4 separate regions of the Homo sapiens genome follow, and all the other regions are linked to region 1. Evidence: fine-mapped expression QTL. A gene starts in region 1. Each other region holds a variant in brackets. All regions are shown on one strand. Distances are from middle to middle. Region 1 holds the start of CERK (ceramide kinase). Region 2 overlaps CERK (ceramide kinase). Region 3 overlaps GRAMD4 (GRAM domain containing 4). Region 4 overlaps CERK (ceramide kinase).

The links.
Region 2: its variant is fine-mapped to the expression of CERK in whole blood (INTERVAL, PIP above 0.99).
Region 3: its variant is fine-mapped to the expression of CERK in whole blood (TOPMed, PIP 0.96).
Region 4: its variant is fine-mapped to the expression of CERK in whole blood (INTERVAL, PIP above 0.99).

The regions. Positions count from the first base shown.
Region 1 is chr22:46,734,220-46,741,922 of GRCh38, reverse strand. It overlaps CERK (ceramide kinase), which reads left to right and starts at 3,671. Exons shown (of 13, transcript NM_022766.6): 1 at 3,671-3,916. The coding sequence starts at 3,775. LOC105373077 (a long non-coding RNA gene) reads left to right here and starts at 5,531. Exons shown (of 2, transcript XR_001755593.2): 1 at 5,531-5,620; 2 at 6,415-7,311. RefSeq lists enhancers at 2,829-3,158, 2,532-3,190, 4,429-4,598, 5,286-5,859 and a silencer at 3,319-4,278.
Region 2 is chr22:46,680,410-46,688,112 of GRCh38, reverse strand. It overlaps CERK (ceramide kinase), which reads left to right. Exons shown (of 13, transcript NM_022766.6): 13 at 907-3,703. The coding sequence ends at 979. It also overlaps a transcript of GRAMD4 not described here. Among named protein-coding and RNA genes, the nearest start is that of CERK, 54 kb to the left of the region's middle. RefSeq lists a silencer at 1,507-1,801 and an enhancer at 4,082-4,583. The variant T/C (reference allele first, on the strand shown) is at 2,294.
Region 3 is chr22:46,625,535-46,633,237 of GRCh38, reverse strand. It overlaps GRAMD4 (GRAM domain containing 4), which reads right to left. Exons shown (of 19, transcript NM_015124.5): 2 at 6,277-6,487. The coding sequence starts at 6,438. Among named protein-coding and RNA genes, the nearest start is that of GRAMD4, 9.0 kb to the right of the region's middle. RefSeq lists enhancers at 1,933-2,433, 5,171-5,956. The variant C/T (reference allele first, on the strand shown) is at 4,592.
Region 4 is chr22:46,689,562-46,697,264 of GRCh38, reverse strand. It overlaps CERK (ceramide kinase), which reads left to right. Exons shown (of 13, transcript NM_022766.6): 9 at 1,950-2,055; 10 at 3,762-3,838; 11 at 5,488-5,693; 12 at 7,065-7,273. Among named protein-coding and RNA genes, the nearest start is that of CERK, 45 kb to the left of the region's middle. The variant G/T (reference allele first, on the strand shown) is at 4,052.

The DNA of each region.
Region 1 (7,703 bases):
GTCTTAGTTTTCACGTCTGTAAAAAGGGGTAAATAATACCCATTTCCAGGGGCGATTGTCTGGATCATGTGGCGAATGTAGGGATGTGTGTTTTGTAATGATCAGCTTACTCTCCAAATATCTGGGCCTCTTGGGGCCCAAGACATTTCTTCCAGACCCTTGAGGAGAAGCCTCGGATTCTCCTTTTTAAGGCAGTCAGCCTTAAAGAGGAGCATGGGAGGCTTCTCCTTGAAGGTGGAGGGCAGAGGATGGCATTCCTGGCAGCCCATGTACAGCTGGTGCCAGGATCCTCCCACCCAACCCAGCATTCTAGTTTCTGATGTCAGATGGTGGTGCTGACTTCACGAGACAGGGAGTCTCGGGAGATAAGCTGGAAGGACTGGCACAGCAAACAAGGCCAGGGGCCCAGGAAGAGAAGGGAAGAATAGATCAGAGGCCATGGCGGGGACCATGTTAGACGGGGCTGCTGGTGCCAGGCTCCTGCTGGTGGCCAGGGCTCCGTGGACAGGAGGGGCCGGGGCCCGTGGTATGGATGACCCAGTGGGTGGGACACTCGTGGGTATGGGGTTGGACCAGCTTAGACAGAACCTCAGGAGCCAGGTGGCCCATGGGTGGGACAACCTGGCCGCCCAGGGGAACGGGTGCTGGCCGCCGCTGGGCAGGATGTCTGGCTTAGCAGGCTCCAGGGCCATCAGGCCACCAGGCAGCAACCCAAGCCTGCAGACTGGACACAAGACAGGGTCAGGTGGCAGGTCAGGGCCTGACTAATTAGGACCAGAACTCCAGGCTGCTGGGGCTGAGCCCATGCTCTCTGGCCTACCTGGCAGCTCAGGGCCCTGTGCAGAGCTGACCAGCCATGTACACAGCAGGCTAGCAACAGGTTGGGGCATCAGTTGTTCTGAAGTGCCACAAGGAGAAGTGAGGCCCTGTGGCAGCCGGGGGTGGAAGTGCCATGCAGTGAGCTATCAGGGGACTCTGTGGCAGAAGAAACAAGATGTGGTTTGAAGGAGAAGGTGAGTGGGGGCCTCCCAGGCAGACGTGTGGGAAGGGCATTTTGGGCAGGGTCTAAGGTGGGAAAGGTGCCTGCCAGGGAAGAGGTGGGTGAGGTACCGGGAGGTCCTCAGGCAGCCAGGGCTGGCCTCGTCTACATTTTCAAAGCTCCTGTGTCCTTCGCAGCCAGCTCCTGAAGGGCCCCCTGGGTCTGACACACAGCAGGGACCTGACGGCTGCTCTGGGGTGGAGCTGCTCTTTCCTCCCATCCCTCCAGTGCTGTGCCCAGAGTCATGGCCCTGGCCCCACACAGGGCCTGACCCCCACCCAACCCCTCTCCCATGCAACTCAACTGCAGGATGTGCATCTTCTGGAAACCTGGGCTTCGTGACATCACCCTGTCTCCCTGAGCATGAGCATGGGGCCCTGCAGTGGCCAGGCCCCTCCCCAGCCCATCCTAGGACTACAGGTCCCCTGGGTCTGCTCAGGCTGCCATAACAAAATATCACGGACTGGATGGCTTCAACAACAGCAATCTGTCGTCTCCCATGAACAGTTGGCAGAGGCTGGAAGTCTGAGGTCAAGGTTCAAGCCCACAGGGTTGGCCTCCTGGAGGTCACTCTCTTTTGTTGCCCCTTCCCATGGCCACCCCTGTGTACACACGCCTCGGGGGTCTGTGTGTGTTCACGTTTCCTCTTCTTTTTTTTTTGAGATGGAGTTTCGCTCTCGTCACCCAGGCTGGAGTGCAATGGCGCAATCTCAGCTCACCTGGGTTCAAGCAATTCTCCTGCCTCAGCTTCCGGAGTAGCTGGGATTCAGGAGCGCACCACTGCACCCAGCTAATTTTTGTATTTTTAGTAGAGACAGGGTTTCACCATGTTGACCAGGATGGTCTCCAATGCCTGACTTCAGGTGATCCACCCGCTTCAGCCTCCCAAAGTGCTGGGATTACAGGTGTGAGCCACAGAGCCCGGTCAACATTTCCTCTTCTTGTAAGGACGCGCTGGATGAGGGCCCACCCTAACAGCCTCATTGAATCTCCTGTGTGTTTTGTAACTGATGTTGCTGTCTCCCCCAACGGAGCTCCTTCGGGGCCTAAGCACTTCTGAGTCGTCTCTGGGCCCCCACCTCTGGCTGCAGGATTTTAAGCCAAGGCGTGCAGCCGGGGGACAGCAACGTGAATACGCCGGGAGGGGCACGGGGAGCCTAAGCACAGGGAGGCCCAGGGAAGGGGTCCCCAGTAGGGACGCTGGTGCTCTCGGGCCCCTGCCCATGCCACCCTTGCCTGCCAACCCTCTTCGCATGCAGCGGCACCCTCCTGCCACTGGCATGAGCTTTTCTTTCCAAGTAAGTTTCAGATCCACATTTCCCAGGCCTCAGAGCGGCAGCTGAGGGAGGGAGGAGGCTGGGCAGGCCTCGCTGCTGCACACCCCACTGTGTGCCACGATCAGGTACTGCCTGCTAGGACTCTGACTGGGCCCACGGTGGCTGCAGGACTGTCCTGGGGCCTTCACTGCATGGCCTGAACAGGGGCTGGGCTCCCAGGGAGGAATGATTCATGGCTGGTTCCCGCCCTATAGACAAGACAGTCACAAGGAGCTGGCAGGGTAAGACCTGTATATGCTGCCACCTGGTGCCAGGCACAGCAGCAAGGCCACGTGGACCTAGCCCACCTCACCTCTGCCTGCAGCAGCAGGGCTGGGTAGGGGAGCCGAGGGGAGGGGCAGGCCTCAGACCTCAGTGTCACATCCAGGCAGTGTCAGTGTGAGCCTAGGCTCTGCCACACTGGAGCCCTGTGCTCTTGGGCAAGTGACTTAACCTCTGTGAGCACAGTCTTCACTGATAAATCAGGGAGGGATGTGCCCTCCGAACCAGGTTGTGGCTGCTTCCTATGGGGCTGTGTTAAGCACTGCGGACGCAGAGACTGGAGCTTGCATGAAGGCGCACGGCGTGCTCTGAAGGCAGGGCTGGAGTCCCTGCAGGCTGGTGATTCCTTCAGCTGTGGGGTCAAGGAGGCCTTCCTGGGGAGGCGGTGAATTGGGGCCACAGGGGCCGTGTCTCTCCAAGTCTGGGGCCCAGGCTCCGGTTCCTAGGGCCAGCTCGGGGGCGGCTGCTCAGCTGTCTGCTCTGTGGCTTCAGGCCCCAGAGCAGTTCAAAGGGCCAGCGCCCCCGCCCCCTAAAAAGACCTCCGCCTCCTGAAAGCCTTACCTGCCTGTCGGGGCCCAGCTGCAGGCCCCCTCCCAGGCCGACAGGACGCCAGGATCGTAGAGGGCACCCGCCGCCCAAGGTCACGTCGCCCGTGGCGCCCCCATCCAGGCCCGCCCCCCGCCGCGCCCGATCGCCAGGACTGCGTTTCCACGCCGCCCGGACCCCGCCTGAACCGAGGCCCGCGCGGAAGGCGCCACTGAGTCCCGGCCGGCCGCGGGAGCGCCAGATTCAGCACCCGGCACCCGCCGGAGAAGAGAGGAGAGAAAGGCAGCCGCCTCCCGGCCCCAGCGCCCTGGCCTCGGCCAGCCCCATCCCGGCCCCTTCCTCCTCCCTCTTCTCCCCTTCTCGGGTCCCCCCGTCTCTCCCTGGCTCCCGGCCCCTCCTCTACCCACGCCTCCTCCTCGCCCCCGCCCCGCCCGTCCCCTCCGCGGTCCCCGCCGCCCGCGTACGGGGTGACGCAGCGCCGCCTCCCGCCGCCCGCCGCCCGCCGCCCGGGCCACTGCAGGGGCCGCTAACGGTCCGGCGCCCCTCGGCGTCCGCGCGCCCCCAGCCTGGCGGACGAGCCCGGCGGCGGAGATGGGGGCGACGGGGGCGGCGGAGCCGCTGCAATCCGTGCTGTGGGTGAAGCAGCAGCGCTGCGCCGTGAGCCTGGAGCCCGCGCGGGCTCTGCTGCGCTGGTGGCGGAGCCCGGGGCCCGGAGCCGGCGCCCCCGGCGCGGGTGAGTGTCGCCGCCGCCCGGGTTCGGCCGGACCTGGCCAGGGAGCGGGGGCGGCTTGGGGGACCCGGCTGGGGGGACCGGGTGCAGGGAGCGAGCGGCTGTGGTAAGGCCGGGGGCCCTGGGAGCGCAGGCGCCAGGGAGGGGTCGGGGCAGGCGGGAGGGAGGCCGGGGCCAGGGGCCGGGCTGTGCGCCGCCGTCTGCTCCGGGAACCCGAGGACAAAGCGCCGCGCAGTGGAGGGGAGGCCGGCGCCCCATCCCCGCGGGGAGGTGGGACCCGGGGCGCGGGGTCGTGGCCCCCGGTGCGGTCTGTCCGCAGGGCACCTCTGGACAAGACGGACTGTGGATGGATCCCGAGGGGGGGTGCCAGGCGCTCCCCACCGCGCGCATTGCAGTTTACTCCAAGAACAGATGCTTTTCTTTAGCAGGGATCCGAAACCTGAGAGGCGCCCTTGCAGGGTGAGGACTTCCTGTTAAGAAGTTAAAGAAGGGGCCCCTGACTTTCTGTGGGGTGTGCTCCCTGCTCGGGATGGGGGAATTGGTTTCCGTGCCACGGGTTGGCTACTTGCCCCGCAGAGGCCCTCCGGATGAGGAGAAGAGTGACTTTGGTAAACATGGAGGACGCATAGCCCACCCTGGAGAGAGCCCTGCAGGAGGACAGAGGGTTTGTTTTTGTTTTTTGTTGTTTTTTGTTTGTTTTTTGTTTTTTTTTTTTTTTGAGTCGGAGTGTTGCTCTGTTGCCCAGGCTGGAGTTCAATGCCACGATCTTGGCTCACTGCACCTCCGCCTCCTGGGTTCAAGCAATTCTCCCTGCCTCAGCCTCGGAGTAGCTGGGATTACAGGAGCCCGCTACTACGCCCGGCTAATTTTTGTATTTTAGTAGAGACAGGGTTTCACCATGTTGGCCAGGCTGGTCTTGAATTCCTGACCTCAGGTGATCTGCCCACCTCAGCCTCTCAAAGTGCTGGGATTACAGGTGTGAGCAACCGCACCCAGCCTTTTTTCTTTTTAATTATTGGGGTGGGTGTGGCAGAGGCCAGGATTCATGCTGGATGTGCGGAGCTGGAATGGGGTGGGTGTGGCGGAGGCCAAGATTCTCTGGTGGATATTCGGAGCCTGGGATGACACCTTTAGACCCTGTGGGCAGTCGAGGTCAGGAGTTCTTCTGGGCGCTTTCTGGTGCTGAGTGGTGAGGATCTGTGGGTTGGGTTCTGGTGGGGACAGAGTTGAACGTTAGGTGGGGCCAAGGTCGAGGGGTGGTCTCAGACCCATGACCAACACTTGGTTTCCAGCCCTGGGGTCACCTATCTGTGGCTGGGCATCTGAGACTTGACTTTCCTAAGGTATTTCTCATGTCCCCTTTGGTAGAAATGTCACACCCCAAATATCACCCACCAGGGCCCACACACAAGGAGAACAGGTGCCTGACCTGGGCCCGAAGGGTTTGTACTTTGTTGTAAATCCCTAGGCTTCAGGAAGATGACTGCCTCCCCCAAGCACTTCCTAAGTGCGGGCCACTGGGCTTCAAACCGGATGGGTTCCTGAGAGGCAGCTGCTCCCGTCCTAGGGATGCAGGGGCCGATCTGCAGGGGCTGGAAGTGACTGGCCCAATTAGCTGCTGTGCTTGTAGCCACTGGGCTGTAAGGCTTCCCTCAGGCTCCAGCCGCCGCAGAGACGCCAGACCCTTACAGGGCATCTGTGTGGGAGGTCAGTCATCACTGCTTTCTGCCTTGGCGTCCCCAGCCAGCTCCCATTATGGTTTCTGGTCCCCCAGGTCAGGGCTTGGTGTGGTGTGGCGTCTGCTTTTGTCCAGCCTGCTGGGGTTTGCCTCTTGGCATGCTAATTGCTTCACTCTTGCTAAGCCAAGGTGCTTTTGTGCGGGTTCATCCTGAGCTGCCTGACTGGCCTGCCAGGAGCTTGGTCCCTCTTGGAGAGGGAGGGCCCTGGTTTGTGGGGCCATGGATGGTGGGGCCCTGGCTGGTGGCCCTGGCTGGTGGGCTTCCTCCAGGAAGCAGCCTGCCCTCTCCACCCAGGAGTGCTCTCCCATGCAATGGGAAAACATCAACAAGTTGGGAAACGCTAAGTTGTGAATGAGTTCAGGAATACAGCCACACTGTCTCTAGTTTTTTTCTCATAGCTTTACAGTCCCCAAAAGGAATCAGGCCCAGGTTCGATTCTTCTATGCTTGAGGTCAGTAGGGCCATAGTAGGGCAGAAGAATGTGAACCAGCTCACAGGACATTTAATTTGGTCAGCAAGGTGGCATTGCCCAGCCCTCCCCATTCCCCCAGGTGTATCTGGGCACACTGGGATTGATTAGGTTGAGGAATGATGAGAGGTGGAGAATTGTGCAAAAACTGGCCCTAGGAGGACCTGTGAGATGAGGCAGGAGCAGCCCTGGAGCTCCAGGTGACCAATGGGCTAAAGACAAAGCCAAGGCCACTGTGTGTGCCCTGCTGGGGTGGCCGCTTAGTTATTCCGACTCCTTTGTTTTCTCCGTAGCATCACCCCTATTTCAGATGTGGACAGTAGGAGTGGGAATTGACTGGGCCCAGAGGCAGTGATGTACAGAGGGAGCTGGCTTTGAACCCAGGCACGTGCACTTTCGTCAGTGGGTCATCATGCTGGGACAGTGACTGACTGTACAAGAGCACAGACAAGGACTAGCAATTTGGATCGCTGCAGCTTCCTGGGCCTGGGTGAGGTCTGCACCTGAGGAAGCCGCGACAGCAAGTGCCCTGGGCCGCCAGCCTGGTGGGAAGTAGGGCAGGACGAAAACAGGAACTTGAAGTGGGTCATGCTCGTTGAACTGGAAACACTGAGTTGATATCTGGGTTATTTCCCCTGACTGTCGCAAAACACACTTAGACAAACCCTGCATTTATTCCTTTAGAGTTGGGAATGGGAAGAGTGTGTGTGTGTGTGTGTGTGTGTTGGGGGGTGAGGGGACTACTGCCCAGGCTCTACCTTTGTGGGAGGATCCTCCCCTTCCTTCCACCAACCCCACTTGGGATGTCCCAGGCTGGTGGTGAACTCGTTGGGCAGGTCAGTACTGTGTTTATAAAGCGTGTCCTCAGCACACCCTGCAAAGTGCCTGGCAAAACATAGGCATGCCACAGATACTTTAAAAAAATGTTTTTCCTGCTTACAAAAGTAAGTCATGTTGATTTAATAATATCGAGAAAACACAGAAAAGCATACACAAAAAGTCACTCTTCGACTTAGACGTGATTAATATTTGGTATTTGTGTATATGTAAATATGCATGAAAGAAAAGCTGAGAAAACATACTGCAGAGTGTTTTCCACGCTACTAATTCCTCTCCTAAGACATGATTTTTAAAAATCGATTTTATCAAGGTCTAAATTGCATGCAATAAAACTCAGACATTTTAAGGCACATAGTTGGTTAAATTTTGATAATTGTGTGCACCTGTGTAAACATCACCCGGATCGCAGCAGCCCAGCACCTTCTCCTGGGCCCTGGGCTGTTTTCTCACCAGGGACAGGCACGATGCTAATAGAGTTTCATGTAAATGGAATCATGCCATGTGCACGTCTTTGTGCCCGGCTGCTTTATCTCATGTAAATGGAATCATGCCATGTGCACGTCTTTGTGCCCGGCTGCTTTATCTCATGTAAATGGAATCATGCCATGTGCACGTCTTTGTGCCCGGCTGCTTTATCTCATTTTGTTTTTTTTAAGATTCATCATGTCAGCAGTTCCTTCTTTCTGGTTACTAAGTCATATTGCATTGTGTGGGTGCACTAGTGTATCCGTTCACCTGCTGA
Region 2 (7,703 bases), 54 kb after region 1:
AGGTTCAAGCAATTCTCCTGCCTCAGCCTCCCAAGTAGCAGGCGCCCGCCACCACACCTGGCTAATTTTTATATTTTTAGTAGAGACGGGGTTTCACCATGTTGGCCAGGCTGGTCTCAAACTCCTGACCTCAGGTGATCCGCCCGCCTGGACCTCCCAAAGTGCTGGGATTATAGGCGTGAGTCACTGTGCCCTGCCCCAGCCTGTCACTTAATGAAGGGGTTTAGGTTACTGAAATACGTCTGAGGAGGCTGTGATATCATTAATAAATGAGATAAATAGAGCTGTCCTGTGTGGGAAGATGGCACTCACCCACGGACTCACTGTGGCCACCGAGCCCCTGGGCAGGGGACCTCCAGGGACCCCCAACTTGTTCCTCAAGCCCGAAGGCTCTTGCTGGCGTTGGGCCACCTGTCCTTCTCATCTGAGCATTCCTCACACATCTCTTACACGCATTGAGTCGCCCCGCACAGACTCCTCGCAGGCCTTGCGCGCTCAGTACTGCTGAGAAAATGGAGGTGGGTGGGTGGGTGGAGTGGGCAGACACTGGAGCGGACGCTCTGCTTTCCATGGGGGTGCTGGAGTTCGAGTCAGGTCTACCGATGCCCAGATTTCCCACCTGGCCATTGGCAACCCCTTTACAAACTCGGCATCCCGGGAGTCTAAGTGAATTATTCCACGCCCAGGGCCCGTCATTGTGGGCTGGACTCCTACAGCCCACGGTGACGTCTGACCGTTCCATGGGGGATGGACCCCCACTTCAGCCCCTGTCCAAGAGCGGTGCTCAGGGCCAGCTTTGAGTGAGGGACACGTGGGGTTTACTGCAGCCCCTGTCCAGGAGTGGGGCTCAGGCCAGCTTTGAGTGAGGGACACGTGGGGTTTACACGTGGCCGCTTGTCTCTGCAGAGTCCACTGCCAGCTGGTTCGACTCTTTGCACGAGGAATTGAAGAGAATCCGAAGCCAGACTCACACAGCTGAGAAGCCGGCGTCCTGCTCACAAACTGGGAAAGTGTGAAAACTATTTAAGATAATTATTACAGACCAATTATGTTGATATATACATTTAAATGTAGAAATTTATTTTTGATAGTTAAATCTTGATTTTAGAAGAAAACCCTTTTGTCAACAATTTTGTGTACATATTTGGCATTTTCAGTTCTGTACGCATCTGCGGGTTGCAGCCCACGCCGCTTACTCTCAGCGGATGCAGCTGCTCACTTGGGGGCACTGGCCTCTTAGGTTTTAACGATGTCAACAGTGTAGTTTAGAAAATGGCCCGTTAGTGGCTCTATTGCAATAATGTTAGGGACATTATATGATTTCCACGCAGGTCACACCATCTGGGCCTGAGGTAGCAGTGGGTCACTTTGATCCACTTTGCAGGACTTATTCTGTAACGGTTTGTGGCCAAGTTTTGGGAAGTGGTTGATTCTCTTTGCCTTCATTTCACCTTCCTCTTCGTTTACGGTTAGGACATCGCTGCTTGATCCTTACAATACTGTGCAACTGCAATGCAACGTGGCCCTGCTTCAGGTGATCCGCGGGAGGGGCCTCCACGCCAGCGCCGGGAAGGCTGCTGGGGCCTCCACACCTGCCTCATCACGGCGGCGAGGCTACGACAATCCGGCTGGGAGCATGACCTTGGCGTCTGTTCTGGGAGCACGGATGATAAGCTCTGGAAGCTGGCAGTGTGTAAAGCACTGGCAAGTTTGTTACTGTTAAAATGTCAAATACCAATGCTTTATATCGACGCGAAGTGCTTAACACAGCCGGGCTTGGGGGCAGTCAGGAGGAAGCTGGCCATCCGTGGAGGAGGGGCCGGTCCTGGACTCCCGCAGGACTCCTCTGAGGCAGGGCCTGAAGTCTGTACACGTGGTCCAGATTTGTCCTTGTCTTTTCTTCACACTGAGTTCTCTATATTTATTGAACATCTTGTCCTTTTAAGCCAGAGTAGTGTAAACTGCGTCTCGGATGTCTGTCTTTTGCCTCGAAGCCACGATGGATCGCTGGTTTCCTCTGCAGCGCGAGGGCTCCGGCGACCAGAGGATTCTTCCCGGAAGGCATTCCTGCCGCGCTCCCCGGGGCACCCCTCAATTGTGTACTACGTCCTTGTTTAGTGTGTATCCGTGCCCACGTAGATGATGTCTGTAACGTAGTTTTGTTTGAAATATGAGAATATGCGGCTTAAACTTTGATCTGTAAGGAGCGGGGCCGTGGCCGTTTGGAGCACGCTGTAGACACCGTTCCTCATGCTGCCGGGTGGGTTTTGCAGAAGCTCCCTTAGTGATTTCA[T/C]GTTTAACAGGCAGCATCCATTTTCAGAATTTCCTGGCATTGATTTATATTTTGAAGCATACAGGAAACTTCTCGTTTCCTCGTTTAGCCCCACCCAGATCAGGTGAAAGGGCAGCTTTAATGGTGGTTTTTATGGACCACATTATCAGAGAGCACTGTGCAAGCCAAATGGTTCAATAATGAATGAAAATTCTGGGTGTAAAGAGTAAATATGCCCTGGCTCTTTCTACCAATGTTTGCTCCTGGTTGGAAAGAAACCAAAGATTTAAGACGGGCTGCTCTTCCAGACTGGCTGTGCCTGCCTGTGCCCAGCAACCTGTGCAGCCGGCAGTGTGCCTGGTGTCACGCCAGGAGGCTGTGGCTGCTGTGGGCCCTCTGGAATTGTGCTCCTCACAAAGTTTCCCCAAAAGGTTCTTCTAAGCCTTTATTGTCCCTGGTAAATGTTTCCCGGCTGGGCGCGGTGGCTCACGCCTGTAATCCCAGCACTTTGGGAGGCCGAGGCGGGTGGATCACCTAAGGTCAGGAGTTTGAGATCAGCCTGCCCAACATGGTGAAACCTCGTCTCTACTAAAAATACACAACTTAGCCAGTCTTGTTGGCGCACGCCTGTAATCTCAGCTACTAGGGATGCTGAGGCAGGAGAATCGCTTGAACCCAAGAAAGAGGTGGAGGTTGCGGTGAGCCAAGATTGCGCCACTGCACTCCAGCCTGGGCAAACAGAGGGAGACTCCATCGCCCCCCCCAACAAAAAAAAAAGTTTCCCATACACTGGCCTGCCCCAAAACCCACTAACAATTTTAGCAAAACAGTCCAGGCCAAAGAGGAAGCATTTCATGTTCAATAAGAAACCCAGCCATTCCGCATGGCTGGTTCCTGAGTGGCTCTGGTGATACTCTCCAGCCACCTGCTGACATTCAGAATCTCAGACCTCGGGACTGCTGTTGCGGTACCGTGTGTCTGACACCTGCCAGCAGCCCTTTGCTATCTGCGCGCAGGATGGGGGTGACTGCCCAGACATTCCCGCTAGATAGGCTCTGATTTCCGGGGCAGCCTTTCAGATGCGGCAGACATACAACACCTGTACTTTAGAGTTTTAAGGGAAAAAAAATCAGAAGTGCTGGTTAGATAGTAAAAACTTAGGATAACTTAGAAAGGCTAGTTTTAGCTTCCTTTGTGGCTCCCTGGTGCAAAACAATTAGCAGTTATGCAATGGACCTGATTCTAGTTTATTCTAATTAAGAAGTGAGGCCGAGTTTGACTTCGTTCCTGAATACAATCTTGAGTAACTGGGAAAGTCTGAGTGAAAGGATGGCCTCATTCTCTTTCTAATCTTGCTGGTTTCAAGATTAGAAAATGGCATTATTTGATCTGAAATGTTTGAGAAGACACGAATAAAGTTACTTGGGCAGACTTGGCTTGCTTTCTTTCCTTTACACATACCTGTTATTTTCAAAGCAGAATATTTTTCATGAAAACACACACAATTTAAAGAACAAGAATAAAATGAAGCAAGGTGTCACCACCACCTATGCCAGGCAACTGAACGCCGCCCCGAAGCCTTCTGTGCCCTGCTCTGGAGTCCCCCCGCTCCCCCTGGGAGGGCGCTACGAGGTCACGCCAAGCGCATCCCTTCCTGCCTCTGTCCATGGCTGTATCTGCAACAGCGAGTTTAGTTTTGCAGGTTTTGCTCCTTATCCAAAGGAAACGTGTTGTTTTCTGTAACTTGCTTCTTTCACTCCACATGTCTATTTTTATTTATTTATTTATTTTGAGACGGAGTTTCGCTCTGTCACCCAGGCTGGAGTGCAGTGGCGCAATCTCGGCTCACTACAATCTTGGCTCACTGCAAGCTCGCCTCCTGGGTTCACGCCATTCTCCTGCCTCAGCCTCCGGAGTAGCTGGTACTACAGGTGCCCGCCACCACGCCCAGCTAATTTTTTGTATATTTAGTAGAGACGGGGTTTCACTGTGTTAGCCAGGATGGTCTCGAGCTCCTGGCCTCGTGATCCACCAGCCTCGACCTCCCAAAGTGCTGGGATTACAGGCGTGAGCCACTGCGCCCGGCCCACTCCACATGTTTGAGAGGGCATTTGCATTTGTATTTGAGGAACTTCGAAAGGACATTTGCATTGTGAAACTGACTTTTCTGGTCCATGAAAGATCCTCATTCATGTCTTTTAATTATTTTATAATTTTTTCCATGAAAGTCTTTAAATTTTTAGATTTATTCCTAAAACTTGACTTTTGTTTGTTTTTAACCTTGTTTTAAACAAGGTCTTATTCAGTTGCTCAGGCTGGGGTACAGTGGCGTGATCACGGCTCACTGTAACTTCAATCTCTCAGACTGAAGCAATCCCACCTCAGCCTCCTGAGTAACTGGGACTACAGGCGTGCAACACCATGCCTGGCTATTTTGTTAAAATTTTTTGTAGAGACAGGGGTCTCACTCTGTTACCCAGGCTGGTCTCGAACTCCCGGGCTCAAGCAATCCTCCTGCCTCAGCCTTCCAAACTGCTGGGATTACAGGAGTAAGCTACTGTGCCCAGCCAAAAGTTCTTATTTTGAGGCTTTTTAATGTTTTGTAAAGATAGGGTCTCACCATGTTGCCCAGCCTGGTCTCAAACTCCTGGCCTCAAGTGAACCTCCCATCTTGGCCTCCCAAAGCGCTGGGATTACAGGCGTGAGCCACCACACTTGGCCTTTGAGGCTATCTTAAAATTTGTTTTGTTTTGCATAGAAATGCAATTTTTTGTTTGTTATGAGACGGAGTCTCGCCCTGTTGCCCAGGCTGGAGTACAATGGTGTGATCTCGGCTCACTGCAACCTCTGCCTCCGGGGTTCAAGTGATTCTCCTGCCTCAGCCTCCCAAGTAGCTAGCATTATAGGTGCATGCCACCATGCCCAGCTAGTTTTTTGTATCTTTAGTAGAGATGGGGTTTCCCCATGTTGTCCAGGCTGGTCTCAAACTCCTGGCCTCGTGATCTGCCCGCCACAATTGTTTTTTATGTGTTGGGTTATATCCAGAAACCTTGCCTCCCGTCAACCTAAAGTGACATCAGAGTGTTCTCCTAAGAAAGAGTTTATTCAGGAACAGCAAGGGGATTGCAGTCAGGATATGCGTGCTACACTGGAAGGCATTTTGGGGGGTGTTCGCGATAAAGGCAACACTTTAAAAGGCAAAGAAGTCCATGTAAGCTGCTCTAGAACGAAGTTCACAGGTCACAGCAGCTCCTGGCAGGAGGCAGTACTGTTCACCGCAGGAGTGGCCGTCACTGGGCGGGCGCCCTCGTCGCAGTCCCGAGGGTTCTGGGGTGAGTTCTGCTACAGGCAGGTCTTCGAGAGCTTCTTCACGGCCTCCCCTGACTCATTTTGTACCAGCAGCTTCCACACTCCTATGATGATGATTTACCTGTGAATTTCGGGGTTTTCTGTCATCATATCATTTACAGATAGTAACAGCTGAATGTCTTCTTTACAATCGTGCATGGTCCAGCTATTTCCCCTAGCTTGCGATGCCAGCTGTGACATGTGGTAGAGAGTTGAGCAGAGAGGATGGCAGGGGCATGGGCCAGCTCCTGTCTGAGGGAGTGGTCAGCTGCCCATCACTGCCTCTTGGCTCCAGCCCCACCCCAGCTGCCCCTCTGTGATCCCAGGTGTCTCCCTTCCAGCTGACGTGGACCCGAGGGCCCCAGGAGGAGGGCAGAGCTGGGCTTCCTGGTTCCAGGGGTTTTGAGGGCAGATTTCTGATTTCAGCAGCACTGGGTGGCTGCACAGCCCTTTCCCTGGGCGGCTTTCCCAGCTCACACCAACACAGGACGGGGTCTTGGGGTCCTTCCTTGGCTGTGCCCTTAGTCTGTGGCTCCTGTAGTCTCTGGCCAACCCTGTCCTCCAAACACTGCTGGAGCTCATAAGCCCATAGAATGCTGCCTCCTGGAGTTCTGCAGGACGAGCAGAATGGACCACAACCCTGGGTTCCCAGCGTCACTCACTTTGGTCCATGTGAGGCCCTCTCTGATTTATTTACTCATTCATCCGTTACATTCATCCAGTAAATATTTAAAAACATATAGCAAGTACCTATGAAGAGAACCCCTGGTTCAAGAATAAAATCATTAACAATTTCATTCCCCTCTGGACTCTCCCTGACGCACCCCCACCCTGGGTGACCCCTCTTCTGATTTGCAGCCAGAGTGCCAGCTTCTGCTGGAAGCTCTGCAGTGCCCCATCACTCCCAGAACAAAAGTCCTAGAGGGCACCAGGCCTGCCCCACAGGTTTGTGACCTTTCCTTGTTGCACAGCCCCTCTGGTAGCCAGGTACAGCCGAGAGATGCCGCTGAGTAAGGTAAAATGCATGCATTAAAACATGCACGATTGCCAAGGAAACCAGCTGCACTGAAATAGTTATCACAATCACCCGTAAATGGTGATAGAGGTATATGTAGGCACCTTTATTGACACTAAATGGTGAAATATACGCAAAACAGGCAAGTTGTTGGTTTAGGCATAGAGCCTGTGGGCCGAGGGTGGGTGGTCTCCCACAAGGTTGGCCTTTTTGAGCACTCAGAAGCCCCTGGGAGGCCCCTCCGCCTCCTCCATGGCCCGGCTCCAGTGACACCTGCCATGGGCCCACACTGCCCCCTGTCTGTGTGGAGGGGTCAGTGTGGGCTGCCAACGGGTTAGGTAGGTCTGAGCCTTGTTCCAAGTTAGGAGCAAGCTGGGGGAGGACCTGTTGCAGAGGACAGAGGGGTGGGTGGAAGGGGTCGGTGGCTATCACAGCATGGATGTGTTCCTGGGAAGGATGTGAGGGTGTGTTTGGCAGGTTCCTAGCCCATCACTGCTGTGTCCCAGCACCAAGGACTTGGCTGGCTGGGTGGGTGGGTGGGTGGGTAAATGGGTGGATGGGTGGATGGATGGATGGATGGATGGATGGGTAGGTAGATGGATAGGTGGGTGGGTGGGTGGGTGGAAAGATGGATGGATGGATGGATGGATGGATGGATGGATGGATGGATGGGTAGGTGAATGGATAGGTGGGTGGGTGGATGGATGGATGGATGGGTGGGTGGATGGATGGATGGGTGGGTGGATGGATGGGTGGGTGGGTGGATGGATGGATGGATGGGTGGATGAATAGGTGGGTGGATGGATTGATGGATGAGTGGGTAGGTGGATGGATGAATGGATGGAGGGATGAATGGGTGGGTGGATGGATGAATGGGTGGGTGGATGGATGGATGGATGGATGGATGGATGGACGGACGGACGGACGGACGGACAGATGTGGATGAATGGATGGATCAGTGGCTGGCTATGTCGATGGAGTACGCATATGTCCTACTTTCCGAAGCTGTGCCCCTTAGGGTGGCGTGGCCCACTAGACCTAGTTTCCGCCTGGCTCCAGCTCCCTTGC
Region 3 (7,703 bases), 110 kb after region 1:
ACGGGCGGGCAGAGGGATGGAACCAGGGCAGCTGGGGGCCCCCTGGCTTCCGAGGAGCCTGGGCTGTGGCATACTTTCGGGGAGGCCTGGGGAAAACAGTTGGACCGTGCCACCCTGTTCCAGCACGTCAGCCTGGGCAGGGCTGCTTCCTGGAGGCTGAGTTGGAGAAGAGCTTGGAGGCTCCCATCTGCCTCTGCCCACTCAGCCCTACAAATAAGTATGCTCTTCCCTCCACATCCCCATCCCCACCGGGCGGGGGGCTGTGTGGGTCCCCATAACAGACATGTGGCAAGGGGCCAGAGGCCTGCGTGGAAAGGCTCTGCCCAGTGCAGAGGCGGAAAATTCAACTCCGCCACGCCCAGCACCCTCCCCAGCAAGCACAGGCAGCGTCGTGCGGGTGACCCGGCTCCATCCACATGTGCCAACCCTGTCTCCAATGGCTGCTCCAGGCCCACGAGGGCTGGGCCCCACGGTCTCCACCCAGTCCTGGGATTCCACAGCCCAGATGAGAGCCACCTGGATACCAGGGTGGTGAGGGCTGGCTCTGCAGGACTCACCAATGAACAAGGGGTCTCCTATTGGGACACAAGGCCCTGGGGTGCTGCCCTGAAATGCTGGGGTCTGAATCCTTCTGCAAGCCCTGTGGGTCCCTCCAGCTGACCCCTTCTCAGACCTACAGAGGAGCCACCCTGAGCTGGAGTCAGAGGCCTGGACTCAGAACTCCAAGGGTGCAGGACACCAAGGCTGTGGCGCTGTCACTATAAAACTAGAGTGGTAGGCCTGGCCATTTCTCAGTTCTTCAGCTTTTCTAGAACTATTTTCTCCAACTTTTGCCTCAACTGAAATCTGCAGCCCTCTCAAGATGGGGCGTGGGTCTTCTGGGGACGTCTCCCATCTCCTGCCTCCTGGTCGGGGGTCACCCCAGACGCTGCCCCAGCCCTAAGCATGCCCACCTCCTTCTTGCCACCTCTCCTTCCAGCCAGCACCAGCCACACAGTTACCTGTCTCTTCCACCTTTACCTCCCCTTCCCAGCCCAGCCTCGTGGGCCCCTCAAGCCCACCCAGGGCCCCTCCAACCTTCCCCTCCCAAGCAGGTCTGGGTTCTACTCTCAGCCACTTTGTCCCAGGACACAAACAGCCCACAACGAAAGGAAGCAGGAATGAAGCGGAGCACACCTGGAGGACATGGTGCTTGGTGACAGCGGCCAGAGATGAAAAGACACACGCCGTAAGGGTCTACCCATCCCCGGTCCCCAGGAGACGAAAGGACACAGGCCGTGAGGTTCTACCCATCCCCGGTCCCCAGGAGACGAAAGGACACAGGCCGTGAGGTTCTACCCATCCCCGGTCCCCAGGAGACGAAAGGACACAGGCCGTGAGGTTCTACCCATCCCCGGTCCCCAGGAGACGAAAGGACACAGGCCGTGAGGTTCTACCCATCCCCGGTCCCCAGGAGACGAAAGGACACAGGCCGTGAGGTTCTACCCATCCCCGGTCCCCAGGAGACGAAAGGACACAGGCCGTGAGGTTCTACCCATCCCCGGTCCCCAGGAGACGAAAGGACACAGGCCGTGAGGTTCTACCCATCCCCGGTCCCCAGGAGACGAAAGGACACAGGCCGTGAGGTTCTACCCATCCCCGGTCCCCAGGAGACGAAAGGACACAGGCCGTGAGGTTCTACCCATCCCCGGTCCCCAGGAGACGAAAGGACACAGGCCGTGAGGTTCTACCCATCCCCGGTCCCCAGGAGACGAAAGGACACAGGCCGTGAGGTTCTACCCATCCCCGGTCCCCAGGAGACGAAAGGACACAGGCTGTGAGGTTCTACCCATCCCCGGTCCCCAGGAGTCACATTCAGAGACAGGAGGCGGAATGCAGGCTGCCGGGGTGTGGCAGGGAGGAATTCCCACCAGGGAGCTGGCGTGTGACACGTGCTGGGCCTCAGTCTGGGATGACGAAAGGTTCTGGAGGTGGAGGTGGAGGTGGAGGTGGCGATGGTGGCACAACAGAGGGCATGTGCTCCGTGCCCCTGAACTGCACACTGACAGTGAAAATGAAAATGGTACATTCAATGCTCTGTGTATTTTACCACAACAAATAAAAAGAATGAAGCCTACATGTGTGCAAAGATGACCAACTTCCTGCACAATAAAAGCCGTGCAACCTACAGCCACTCGGCACTGCCGTCTTGCCCCTCGGGGCGGTGGAGAGAGAAGCCTGAGAACAGCGTGGAGGCCGGGGTGGGGGCACATGGCCCTCGAGGGAGCTATGGAGGGCACACTGCAGAGGCCGGGGTGAGGGCACACGGCCCTCGAGGGAGCTATGGAGGGCACACTGCGGAGGCCGGGGTGAGGGCACACGGCCCTCGGGGGGCTATGGAGGGCACACCGCACAGCTGCCAGGACCACCACACAGGCACACTCGGTCCAGCACTTCCACCAAAAGTGCCGCAGCCCACATGGGCACCAGGCTGCCAGGAGTGATGGACGCTAAGAGCCACAAGCACCTGCGATCCCTCAGTGGGGACAGATTAGCTGAAGTGACGAACATCCCAGGGTGAGATCCTGAGCCGCTGCCAGGAGTGAGGCTGCTTGGGGTCCGCCACGGAAGAGCTCCTGGAGCACTGAGAGGGGCGGTCAGAACACCCCAGGCTGCAAGGTGGGCTCCGGTCTGAACCTGCCCCTCCAGGGAAACCCTCAGACCCTACCGGTGGGCACGGAGCATGGCGCGGCTGCACATGAGAATGCGGTAGATCCTGGAAAAGGGCAATCTCGGGCCTCTGCATGGCCCAGCGAGACCATGTGGAAGCACATGCACACAAACACTCAATCGCAGGCATTCAGCCTCATTCATCACAGTCCAAGAATGGAACTGCCCAAGCGCCCACAACAGATCAATGAATAAAGACAACAGGTCGGGCGCGGTGGCTCACGTCTGTAATCCCAGCACTCTGGGAGGCTGAGGCGGGTGGATTGCCTGAGCTCAGGAGTTCGAGAACAGCCTGGGCAACACGGCGAAACCCCGTCTCTAATAAAAATACAAAATATTAGCCGGGCGTGGTGGTGTGTGCCTGTAATCCCAGCTACTTAGGAGGCTGAGGCACGAGAATCGCTTGAACCTGGGAGGTGGAGGTTGCAGTGAGCCGAGATCACACCACTGCACTCCAGCCTGGGTGACAGAGTGAGACTCTGTCTCAAAAAAAAAAAGAATAAGAAAAAGAAAATGTGGCCTGGCCATATGATGAAACAGGTTCAGCCATAAAAAGGCAGGCGGCACCAATGCACACCGCAGCATGGATGAACCTCGCGTCCCTTATGCGAGCAAAGGACAGACACACGAGGCCTCATGTTATATGAGATGCCCCATATGGGCAAATCCATCGACAGAAAGCAGGCTGGCAGCTGGTGGGGCCGGTGGCCAAGGGAAATGGGAGTGACTGTGAAAGGAACGGGGTCTCTTTCAGGTGATAAAAACCTTTTAAAACTGTAGTAATGGTAGCACAGCATTGTAAATATGCTATTAATAGAAACCCCTGAGTCGCACACTTTTAGTGGGTGAACTGTATACTGTATACCCGGTGGGAATATCTCGATTAAGCTGTTATAAAACCAACCCCCAAGGCCTCTGTGCCTGAGCCCAGGTCTCAGGATGTTTCTGGGAGGCTGCCCGTGTAAAGAAGGGTGATGAGAGGGGACCTCGGAAGGAGCAGGGCAACGCTGCACAGCCCCCCACCCCGGGGGCCTCGTGAGCCTGGGCCGGAGCAGTGTCAACGTGCTACAGGAACGAGGCTTCGCAAAGGAGCCCTGGAACCAGGAGGAGGGTTTAGCGAATCAGTATTTCACGGTCATTAATAATTACAACTCCCTCCAAGCTAACCATAAGCAAGACGCCAGCCACGTACGTTTCACTTATTATCTCATTTGATCCTTAAAGCAGGCCTGGGGGTGGACGAGACTGCCGTCCCCCTTAAAAGCTGAGGATACTGAGGCTCAGGTCCAGGTTACACAGCTAAGGAACTCAGCCTGGTCTCTGCAGTCAGTGCCTGACCTGCATTCAGCACGATGCCCCAAGCGGGGCCCTGCTCACCCACACTAGGAATCTCCTGGGTTTCCAGACGTCCGAGTCCCTGAGGTGGTTTCCCCCCGCAGCCCCTCACAGCCTCGAGGAAGGGGGGCCCCAGTCCACAGGCTGACCTTGCCCTGGCCTCTGCAGCATTTGCCCCTACTCGGTGGGCTCCCTCTCAACTCAACATGCCCCCTCAAGCCCCCTTGTACCTCGTGGACCACCACCTGCCCACCAGAGCTGGTCCAGACCACGGCCTGCCTCTCCTGTGACGCCAGCAACACCGCTAGCGCCATACCCTCTGCCACCCCCAGGAGCCACATTCTCCAAGCTACTCCCCAGACATCACCCTGGAGCGGCCAGCTCTGACACTGACCCTCCCCCGAAGGGGATCCCTGATGCCCCCCAAATCCAGATGTTCTGCCCCAGGTGAAGACTCCCATGATCCCACAGCCCTACCTCCTGCTGCTCCAACCAGACCAATACCTGCAACCCTGGCCCTGGCCCCCTCACTGCAGCCCTCCACCTG[C/T]CCCTCAGACACCAACGCACACACTCAGTCCACCCGCCCCTCAGACACCACGCACACACTCAGTCCACCTGCCCCTCAGACACCACGCACACACTCAGTCCACCTGCCCCTCAGACACCACGCACACACTCAGTCCACCCGCCCCTCAGACACCAACGCACTCAGTCCACCCGCCCCTCAGACACCAACGCACACACTCAGTCCACCCGCCCCTCAGACACCACGCACACACTCAGTCCGTCTCTGACCAGCATGGGCAGGACACGAACCTGCCTGAGTCCATGCTTGGCCCGGCCACAGAGGACAGGGACGAAACCCCAGCCCACACCAGGGGACAAGGACAGGTACTCACAGGGTCCCTCAGGCGGGAGGGTCCCTACCGAGACAACACCTGGAGCAGGACAGACGGATGGCGGAGAGGGAGCTGGGGAAACAGCCCCGCTCTGGCCTTTGCGTGGAATCCCCGTCACCCCTCCCTGTTGAACCATGTATGTGTCGGGAGGGAGATTTTTGTTCCCGAGACACCCACCACATGCTCAGCACACAGACCACCATCGGAGAATCGTGACCCATGCCCTCTGTGCCAGCCCCAGCCAGAGGCGGATGAGACACAGCTCTCCGGCGAAGGCAGGCCCCTGCCGTTCTGCCACATAACCTGCACAAGGGCAGACACCCTACCGGGGTCCCGGTCCACCCCCAGGACCAACCACAACCTTTGCCTGGGGATGGCCGATCCCGGCAGGCCGGGCACTCTGTGGTCTGTAGTGATGCCCCAGGAAGCCAAGCGGCCCCACCTGCCTGATCGGGCAGTGTCGAGAGAGCAGCAGCAGCAGTAAATTATTAATTCCTGCTGAAAGCAACGCACAGTCACTGTCCTGTTATAAAGCATTAGCAACGCAAGGAGCCAGGGAAGGCCGGCGCTCCCAGGCCACACCTGGAAAGAAGACCTGGCTCAGGGGCTGGAGGAGGAAACCAGCCAGACACCAAATTTGGTGTGTGCATGCGGGGAGGAGCTAGAGGCCATGCTGGGCCAGAGGAGGGGCCGCAGGGAGCCCAACCCACCATGCTTCGGGCCCTGCCCCACCCCCCACCAAATGCAAGTTTCTGCAAGGCAGGGCCTGCTCCTGCCTGGCTCCCGCCTGGCTCCCCACCTGGCTCCCACCCAGGGCCCAGGGCCTAGCTGAGGTGCTCCGTGGGTATTTGCTGTCCCCCCAGCTGGCCACAAGCCCAGCCCTGATTCCGCGTGGCTGATGAGGGCCCAGCCTGGGCTTAGCCAGCTTTGGGGGCTGGAAACGTGCACCTTGGCTTGAATAGAAGACAAGCCAGGCACCAGCGGCTTCCAGACAACGCCCGCCCTGCTCCATCCGCATGTCAACGCTCCCAGGGCCAGGCCGAGGCTTCCGCGTCACATGTGCGTGAGAAGTCTGCCACCCACCCAGAAAAGCCAGTGAGGAAAACCAATCCAGCCGCTAATCAGACCTGCGAACACAGAAGGCTCGGCGTGGCAGCACCCCGGCCCCACAAGGTCTGCAGGGGTCGGGAGCAGGTGAGACAGAGAGTCAGGCCCAGTCCATCTCTGACCAGCATGGGCAGGACACGAATCTGCCTGAGTCCACGCTTGGCCCGGCCACAGAGGACGGGGACGACACCCCAGCCCACACCGGGGGACGAGGACAGGTACTCACAGGGTCCCTCAGCTCCTCGCTGTCCCGGGGCGAGGTCCGCGGTACCTTCAGGGGGATTTCGTCGCTGCATTCGGTGTCCGAGGCATTTGGAGACTCCGCTAGATCGAGGAAGTCATCTCTCTTGTGACCTCTGAACCTGATTTTGTCCAACCTCCTTAGCATGTTCAGCACTGAGGTCCTCTGCTTCACCCTAACATGACGCTCGGGTTCCCTGCAAGAGAGGGGCGTGGTCACTCTCCCGCTCGCCACCTCCAAGCCCCACGAGCCAGCTCCCACACACAGGGCACAGCCGGTCCAGCTTTCCAAAGAAAACCCCGACCCAGAGACCCCGCCCTGCCACCGTCCCTCCCACACACACCTCCAAGCCCCACGAGCCAGCTCCCACACGCAGGGCACGGCCGGTCCAGCTTTCCAAAGAAAACCCCGACCCAGAGACCCCCGCCCTGCACCCATCAGGTGGGGCCCTTGGCCACCCCACCCAGGCCAGCCTGGTCAGTGCTGAGCTGCGTCCTTGCCTCCCACCAAGCGAGGCCCCCGGCTCCCAGCAGGCAGAAGGAAGCCAGGGTTCTCAGCCTGGCTCGGCGAGGCGGCGCGCAGGCGCAAGGGAAGAATGCTGCTCTGGCATTGGGAAGGAGGGCCAGCCATGCCAAAAGGTTGCCTAACAAACCGTCAAGAACGTGGTCAACACGACGGCCACATACACCACCAGGACGGCAGCCACGCCTGGAAACCAGCAGATGCGTGTGCTAGGGATGCCTCGGTTGATTCTCTCCTGGACCTAGGGGACCTGGCCTTGTGTCCCACCTGCTCCACCTGGCCCCGGCTCCCAGGACTCCGCCCACACTGCTCCCTCTGCCTAAAGCGTGTTCCTACTCGCCATGCGACCAGGCTCATACTCTGAGACACATTCAGATCGCACCACCTCCCAGAAGCCCTCCCAGAGACAGCGGGGTCAGGCACCCATGGCCAGCTGGGCCTCCTGTCCCAGCCCCCATGCCTGCCTCCTCCTCCAATCAACACAGAAACCTGGTCACACTGAGGTGCGAGTCACTGTGTGCTGCATCAGGACACGCGTAATTCACACACACCACGTGCCAAAGGGCGGATGTGCCGTGGGGTACTGCTCCCCACATCGCTGCCCGACCTGGCCAGCAACACCAAGGCACCCCCAAAAGCCTGGAGGCCAGGATCAGTGGCCCACAGGAGGGGCCAGCCAGGCAGGGAGAGGCCACCCAGCCCCAGCCCCATCACGCAGCTCCATGGCCTGGATGCCTCTCCCAAAACCCCGTCCCCAACTTGTCCAAGACAACTGGGTCCCCGTGGGAGGACTGCTCTGTACACACCTGGGCTGAAAGCCTGTCCTGCCACTGACCAGCTTTCTGAGCTGACATTTTTGCCTCTGAAAATGGAAAGATGCCAGTAAGGCA
Region 4 (7,703 bases), 45 kb after region 1:
CTCGCTGCCCGGTCGACTTTCCCGCCTCTTTACAGTTCGCTTTCAGATAAATCTGTATCAAATTAAATCGAGTAATTCCTGATACTAAAATCTTAACCCTTATGAGAGAAAGAAATAGTGATTTGGCAAACTTTACGAAGCTTGAAAAGATTTAATGAAATTAAAAACTAGTGTGGCTTGAAAATTAAAACCTAAGAAATGGCAAAGTGAGGTATTTATCTAAGGCTTATTAAGAAAGGGAATACCGAGAAAATTAGAGAAGCCGCGAGAATTTTAGGAAGCGGTTTGGGTTGTGCCATTCTCCCGACTGCCCTTTGTTGAGCCCAGTGTGGCTCTGCCTAGAATGCCCCTGGGATGCCCCCTCCCTGTCCCTGCCTGCTGGGGTGGGGTGGTGGGCAGCCCCCCTGCATGCCTGGCCCCCCCCTTTGCCCTCAGCCCATCACCACAGGCAGTGGCTGCAGCTCTGTCCCTCCCACCAGGATGAGAGCCCCGAGGCAGGAGACGCCTTCCGGGTCTCTGGATCCCCATCCTGGCCACAGGGCCTGAGATGCTCTCAGGAAAGCGGGTTTGGGTTCTGTGGCTGTGAGGCAGAAAGCACCCGGTTGTTCTGGAGCAGCACAGAGGGCATGGAAGGAGAATGAGCGTGTGGAAATGACACACTCTGTTGAGACACGTGGAGTTTTAGGTGCCGGTAGGACATCTGGGGCCCATCTAGGGGCAGACAGAAACCGGGACATCAGATGTCGGTGAGGCGCCACCCTGGAGGCTGCGTCTGGGTGATGAGGCAGCTGCCCCCCTGCCCCCTGCACTTGAGAGAGGAGCCGGCTTGGAAGGTTGCTGACCAGTGGGTCGGCCTCCTCCCAGGGCCGTGGACACGACGTCCTTGTGGGACCCCCATGGGAGGAGCAGGGAGAGAGGCCAGAGCCACTCTGCAGGGAGGCGGAGCTGCAGCCACCTGGAAGGGCCCGCCCGCTGAGTGCATTCCAGGCACCTGGCCCATGCCAGGTGCAAGACCCACAGACGGGGCTGTCCTAGGGACAGTCGGGAGCTGACTTTCAGGCACACAGATGTCCTAGGAGCCAGACTGCTCTTGCCGGCAGCTTCCCCCACCCCTGGGCGGTGCACACTTGGCTGTGGGCTTGCCATCTGCGGATGAGGATGTGAGGCCTCTGTGTGTCGGGGGTAAGGTTGTGTGTGACGGCCCTGCAGGCCGTCACTGCCACACCAGATGTCATACAGGGCAGCACCAGCCCCAGCATCAGACACGGAGGAGTGAAGTCGCCCTGAGACTCACAGGACACGGCCTGGCTCCTGGTGTGGCCCACGACACCCTGGGGCCCCTCTCCTGCCTCCTGCCCAGTCCCTGCTGTCCTGCTGGGTGGTGTTTCCCAGACAGCCCGGGTGCCAGGCTGCTGGCAGCCCCGTGGACAGCGCACACGTTTGCCTGGAGGGTGGCCCCAGACTTTGGGTGGCAGCGGCCCTGGCCTCTGTCCTGAGCTGTTCAGGACGTCACAGGGGCTGTGGCTGACCCCAGTGGGGGCCAAGCCCTGAGGCAGGTGGGGGCATCACTGACCCTCATGAAGAGGTGGAGGGGATGACCCTGAGCCACTGGAGCCCACAGGCCACATCATCGAGGCTATGAGGGGTGGCTAATGGCAAAGGCCCCACTTTGCCAGCGTCAAGAGTGGCCATAGCCCTGGCTGTCCCAGCATCACTGGGTGTCAGAAGGCACCAGCACTATGACTAGACGTGCTGTTGTCCTGAGGGAGGGCAGAGACCCTGCCACTGCCTTCAATGGTGACATGGCCTGAAGCAGGCCCGGCCTCTCCCTCCTGCAGACGGTTTAGGCAGATGCGCGCTCAGCGACATTTCTGAAGCTGCCCAGCACAGCATCCTAACCAAGCAATGACCCTTGTGGATGTTTTTTCTTCACTGCACTCTGTTCCCAGGTTTAAAGACCTTCCTCTCCCACCACTGCTATGAAGGGACAGTGTCCTTCCTCCCTGCACAACACACGGTGGGATCTCCAAGGGATAGGAAGCCCTGCCGGGCAGGGTAAGTGCATTGCTTTGTGTGTTTCTCTTGCAAATGACGGGAAATGAAGCAGGACGGTTAGGAAGGTGAATGCAGAAGTATTTTCCAAATGTGGTGGAAGGTGCCGGATGTAGCGTGCCCAGACACACGATGCCTATGATGCCCATGATGGCCTAGGCGTGCATGGGGCTTGCTGTCCCCATCTCTGTCCCCATGGCCTGCGCAGGCAGCTGCTGCTGTGCCAGGGATGAGGACTCTGGGGGAGGGTCCCACACCCACTGTTGGAGTGGGGGCTGAGCACAGGGTCTTTCCCTGCTGGGGTTCCCTTTACCCCCTGCAGGGGCCTGATGGAGGAGAAATGCAGGCAGGAAAGGATGGCAGACACCTTATCAGTGACTGTGCGTGTGCAGGGCACTGGTGGCAGGACCGTTGGTAGAGCTGGCTGAAGTGTGCACTCTCAGCAGCCACCCTCCTGTCCACACCCCTGGCTGAGACCCTCACCCATGTTAGCCCCATGCTCCAAGGCAGGAGCCCACTCTAAGGTTAGCAGAGCCCAGGCCAGCCACGCCTTCAACCCCACAGGAAGGCAGGGACCCTCAGCAAGAAGGCTCGGGCTGGCAACAAGGGCTGGTGCCAGGGGTTGGGGGGCAGAGCCAGGGCAGCTGCCCAGGGAGAGGGGATGCAAAGGGAAAGAGGCGCCCCACCGGGGAGGGGAGGCTGAGTGCAGACAACACAGCTGGAAACGCTGCGCTCTCCCCTTACATTTGGTCCCCCAGTTTGGCCACTGCAGGCTCTGCAATGGTGGCTACGCCACTGAACAAGCAGGGACTCCTTTCACCTGGCATATCTCCGCCCCCACCCCCACACAGTGTATTCAGTAATATGCGACCAGTGTAAATAGAACCTTAAATAAATCTAAACATAGTTGTCCCAGGCCGCATGACCTCCCTAGTGACCATGGAGGGCGCCTGAATGGTCATCCTGTCTCTGCTCTGCCTGGGGCTGAGGACACGGGGCTGTGGAGACAGCTGCGCCTTTGTGAAGGACACTCACGTCCTTTCCTTTTAAGTCATGCAGACTTCAGAACCTCCTTCTAGCTCCTTTCCTTTTTTAAGTGAAGAATTGGAGACCATAAAATCAGAATATGTAGAGGCAGATGCTGTTTGCGTCAGTGCATTAAAGAACTCGGCTGCTGATGAGCGATTTCCATCAGTGCAAACAGTGTCCTGTTTGACAGCGTGAATCCGGCAGCCCCCAAGATCAGAAGGACGTGCTAGACGAATGACTAAGTTCTAAGCTGATGGTTCTGAGTTATTTGCTTGTTATTGACTGTAACAGATAAACCCTGTATGATTTGTTTTCTGAAAGTAAATGAGTCCTCACCCCAGGAGTCCGCTGGGGGAACCAGTGCCTCAGTCATTTCTCCCAGCCAGGCTATGTTAGCTGGAGGGCCAGGCAGAAACCGTCTCCAGGTGGCACCTCAGCGTCCTCATGCTGTGCTTCTCCTCATGTCCAAACCTTTTAGAGAAGGACATGTTGAATGTGTCATTGTAAAAGTAGGTCTCATTCTGAAACCTCTAATTAATATGCCAAAAAATATTTTGTTAAGCCTTTGAAATGGAATTTTTTCGTATGTGAAAAGAATGTAAATACATCTATATGTGCCAAGCATACGCACTGCACCTGCAGCTCCATATTTAAAAGGTGATGATATTCTTGTCTTTCAGATGCTTTGTTTGCAGGCAAAGCAAGCAGCAGCTGGAGGAGGAGCAGAAGAAAGCACTGTATGGTTTGGAAGCTGCGGGTAATTCCTAAAACACAGGCTCAGTGTTGTCACTGTGTGTGCTGGAGTGCGGGTTTCTGTCCTCTCTCAGGGCACTGCCTCTTCTCCCTGCCCACCTGTGCTTTTCCTTTTTCCTGTCTGGCACCAGGCATCCATTTCTTCTTAGCCCCAGGCAGCGTCAGGTCACTGTTACTTGCCGTGTGTGGCTGTGTGGAGCAGTGGGTTTTGTGAAAG[G/T]CCCCGTTACCCTTTCTGAAACGCTGTTGTGGTGCTGAGTCTGGACTCCTGTCCCAGGTGCTCTAGAATGTGGGGGCAGCAGATGTCCCATTGAGGGCTTGCTTGGTGACCACCTCAGGCCCTGGCAACCACACAGTCTCTGTCCAGCAGAGGCAGCCTAGGCAGTGTACAGTGAGTGGGTATGGCCATCTGCCGATGAAACTTTATTTATGGACACTGAAATTTAAGTTTCATAGAATTTCCACATGTCACAAAATATTATTATTTTGATTTTTTTCTCTTTCTCTTCTTTTTTTTTTTTTTTTTTTTGGATGGAGTTTCACTCTTGTCGCCCAGGCTAGAGTGCAGGGGCACAATATCAGCTCACTGCAACCTCCGCCTCCCGAGTTCAAGCGATTCTCCTCCCTCAGCCTCCCTAGTAGCTGGGACTACAGGCATGTGCCACCATGCCCAGCTAATCTTTGTATTTTTAGTAAAGATGGGGTTTCACCATGTTGGCCAGGCTGGTCTCAAACTCCTGACCTCAGGTGATCTGACTGCCTCAGCCTCCTAAAGTGCTGGGACCACAGGTCTGAGCCACCATGCCCAGTCAATAATATTTATTTATTTATTGGGACAGAGTCTTGTTCCATCACCCAGGCTGGATTGCAGTGGCGCGATCTCGGCTCACTGCAACCTCCACCTTCTGGGTTCAAGCGATTCTCCTTCCTTAGCCTCCTGAGTAGCTGGGATTACAGGCGCCTGCCGCCATACCTGGCTAATTTTTTTTTTTTTTTTTTTTTTTTTTAAGACAGAGTTTTACTCTTGTTGCCCAGTCTGGAGTGCAATGGCGCAATCTCAGCTCACTGCAACCTCTGCCTTCCGGGTTCAAGCAGTTCTCCTGCCTCAGCTTCCCCAGCAGCTGGGATTACAGGCATGCACCGCCACGCCTGGCTAATTTTTGTATTTTTAGTAGAGATGGTTTTCACCATGTTGGCCAGGCTGGTCTCGAACTCCTGACCTCAGGTGATCTGCCCGCCTCGGCCTCCCAAAGTGCTGGGATTACAGGCGTGAGCCACCGCGCCAGACCTTTTTCAAGGATTTAAAAACGTGAAAAGCATTCTTAGCTCTCAGGCCACACACAGACGGGCGGCGGGCCGGATCTGACACACAGCCTTGGTTTGCTGACCCTTGTTCTAAATTGTCCAAAAGTCACCAAGTGAGGAGAGGGACAACAGTCCTGCCTTCTGGGAGGTGATCCTTTGGGTACCACTTCCTGCGGGGAGCGGACAGTTCCGTGGTGGATGTTTTTGGTGTTGAGCTGAAGAGTCGATTGCATGAAGTGTCTGCTAAATGCATGAGCAGGTGAGAGCCCGAATGGCCTCCCACCGTCCTGGTGCAGGGCGCTGCCCGGCGCCATTGTAACTGTGACATCTCCGTGGTTCTTTGTGCTTCAGAGGACGTGGAGGAGTGGCAAGTCGTCTGTGGGAAGTTTCTGGCCATCAATGCCACAAACATGTCCTGTGCTTGTCGCCGGAGCCCCAGGGGCCTCTCCCCGGCTGCCCACTTGGGAGACGGGTCTTCTGACCTCATCCTCATCCGGAAATGCTCCAGGTTCAATTTTCTGAGATTTCTCATCAGGCACACCAACCAGCAGGACCAGGTAAGTGGGGTGCTCTTGCATGGAGCCTCCACTGGCGAGTAATTTATGTTCCAGCAGTCCCTGGTTTATGTGTTGTAGGAATTCATTATTTAATTCAAGGGAAGGAAGGGCAAACTTTTTTTTTTTTAATTTCACAAACTTTAAACTCCTGGTTACAACTACTCCTTGTAAAATATCATTTAAAACGATAAATTTTTGAGGCCAGATGCGGTGGCTCATGCCTGTAATCCCAGCACTTTGGGAGGCTGAGGCAGGCGGATCACCCGAGGTCAGGAGTTTGAGACCAGCCTGGGCAACATGGTGAAACCTCATCTCTACTAAAAATACAAAAAAGCCAGGCGTGGTGGCGTGCGCCTGTAATCCCAGCTACTCGGGAGGCTGAAGCATGAGAATCGCTTGAACCCAGGAGGTGGAGGCTACAGTGAGCTGAGATCACGCAACTGCACTCCAGCCTGGGTGACAGAGTGAGACTCCATCTCAAATATATGTGTGTGTGTGTGTGTGTGTGTGTGTGTATGTATGTATACATGTGTGTGTATGTGTATATATACATATATGTGTATATACATACACATACATACATATACACACATACATACATATACACACACATACATACATACATATACACACACATGTATTTGAGCACAGAAACTAAGAGGTATGAATCTTTATAATACAACTTCTTACCCGTTGTTTCTCTTCCTATTTAAAAACAGAACAAAGCGACACAGTAAAGATGTAAGTGGCCCTTGCAGGCCACTGAAAATAGACTCTTTAGGCTCCCAGAAATGGGTTCTGTTCGGACCCTTCTACCACATCTTTCTGTAGCCTATGCAGAGGAAGACCCGAGTCTAGTCATGTTGGGGGAAGCGGAACTTTTGGTCACAGTCTCCAAATTTAGTCACATTTCTTTTTTTACTTAAGTTCTATTTAAGATCTAGTCTAATGCTATTTTTATGTGGCTTTTTAAGTAGTGCTTGTTAAAAAGAGAATACAAAATTCTAATAATCACTGCTAATTATTTATCAGAATTCTGTAAAAAGCGTTCGTCATTGTAGATAAGCTGTGGTTTCTAAAAGCATTAGAAGTCATTTTGACAAGTGCCGCGGAAGGTGGGCACCGGGGAAGGTAGGCGCCGGGGAAGGTGGGCGCCGGGAAAGGTGGGTGCCAGGTTTCCCTTCATCTCTGAGCTGTCAGTTCAGCTGGAAAGGGAACTCCAGGGGCCTGCACAAGCAGTCGCATCCTCCGAGAAGGGCCGTGTGTGCACCCAGGCCTGACAGCGCTCGCTGTCAGGCCTGGGGTGTTCTGCTGCCCCACCCAGACGATGACGTTTAGAGCTGAATGGTCCCTCTCACTGTTTCTTGGTAGTTTGACTTCACTTTTGTTGAAGTTTATCGCGTCAAGAAATTCCAGTTTACGTCGAAGCACATGGAGGATGAGGACAGCGACCTCAAGGAGGGGGGGAAGAAGCGCTTTGGGCACATTTGCAGCAGCCACCCCTCCTGCTGCTGCACCGTCTCCAACAGCTCCTGGAACTGCGACGGGGAGGTCCTGCACAGCCCTGCCATCGAGGTCAGGTGCGTGCAGGGGTCCTCCAGCCACCAGCGCCATCCCCTTGAGCCCTGAGGTGTCTGTCACAAGCTGCCCCACCCAGGGTGGGGGGTTCCCTGGGGCTTTATAAACACAAAACGTAAGAATGTTTTATAAATGCACTTTTCTCTCCCTATGTCAAATATCGAATGAGATGCCGTTACCCACATTCTGGAAAGATGCCAGGGTGCCGAGTCCTCAGCATTTTGTTTTGCAGATAATTTTCATGGGTGTTTGAAGCTCCTCCATTTCATTCTTTTCCTCTTCCACACCCTGTGCTCCAGGCTGGCATTGGGCTCTTTGCCCTGGCATTCTCTCTCTCTTCTCCTAAATAATTCAAAAGGTGGGAGGCTGAGGCGGGCAGATCACTTGAGATCAGGAGTTCAAGACCAGCCTCGCCAACATGGTGAAACCCCG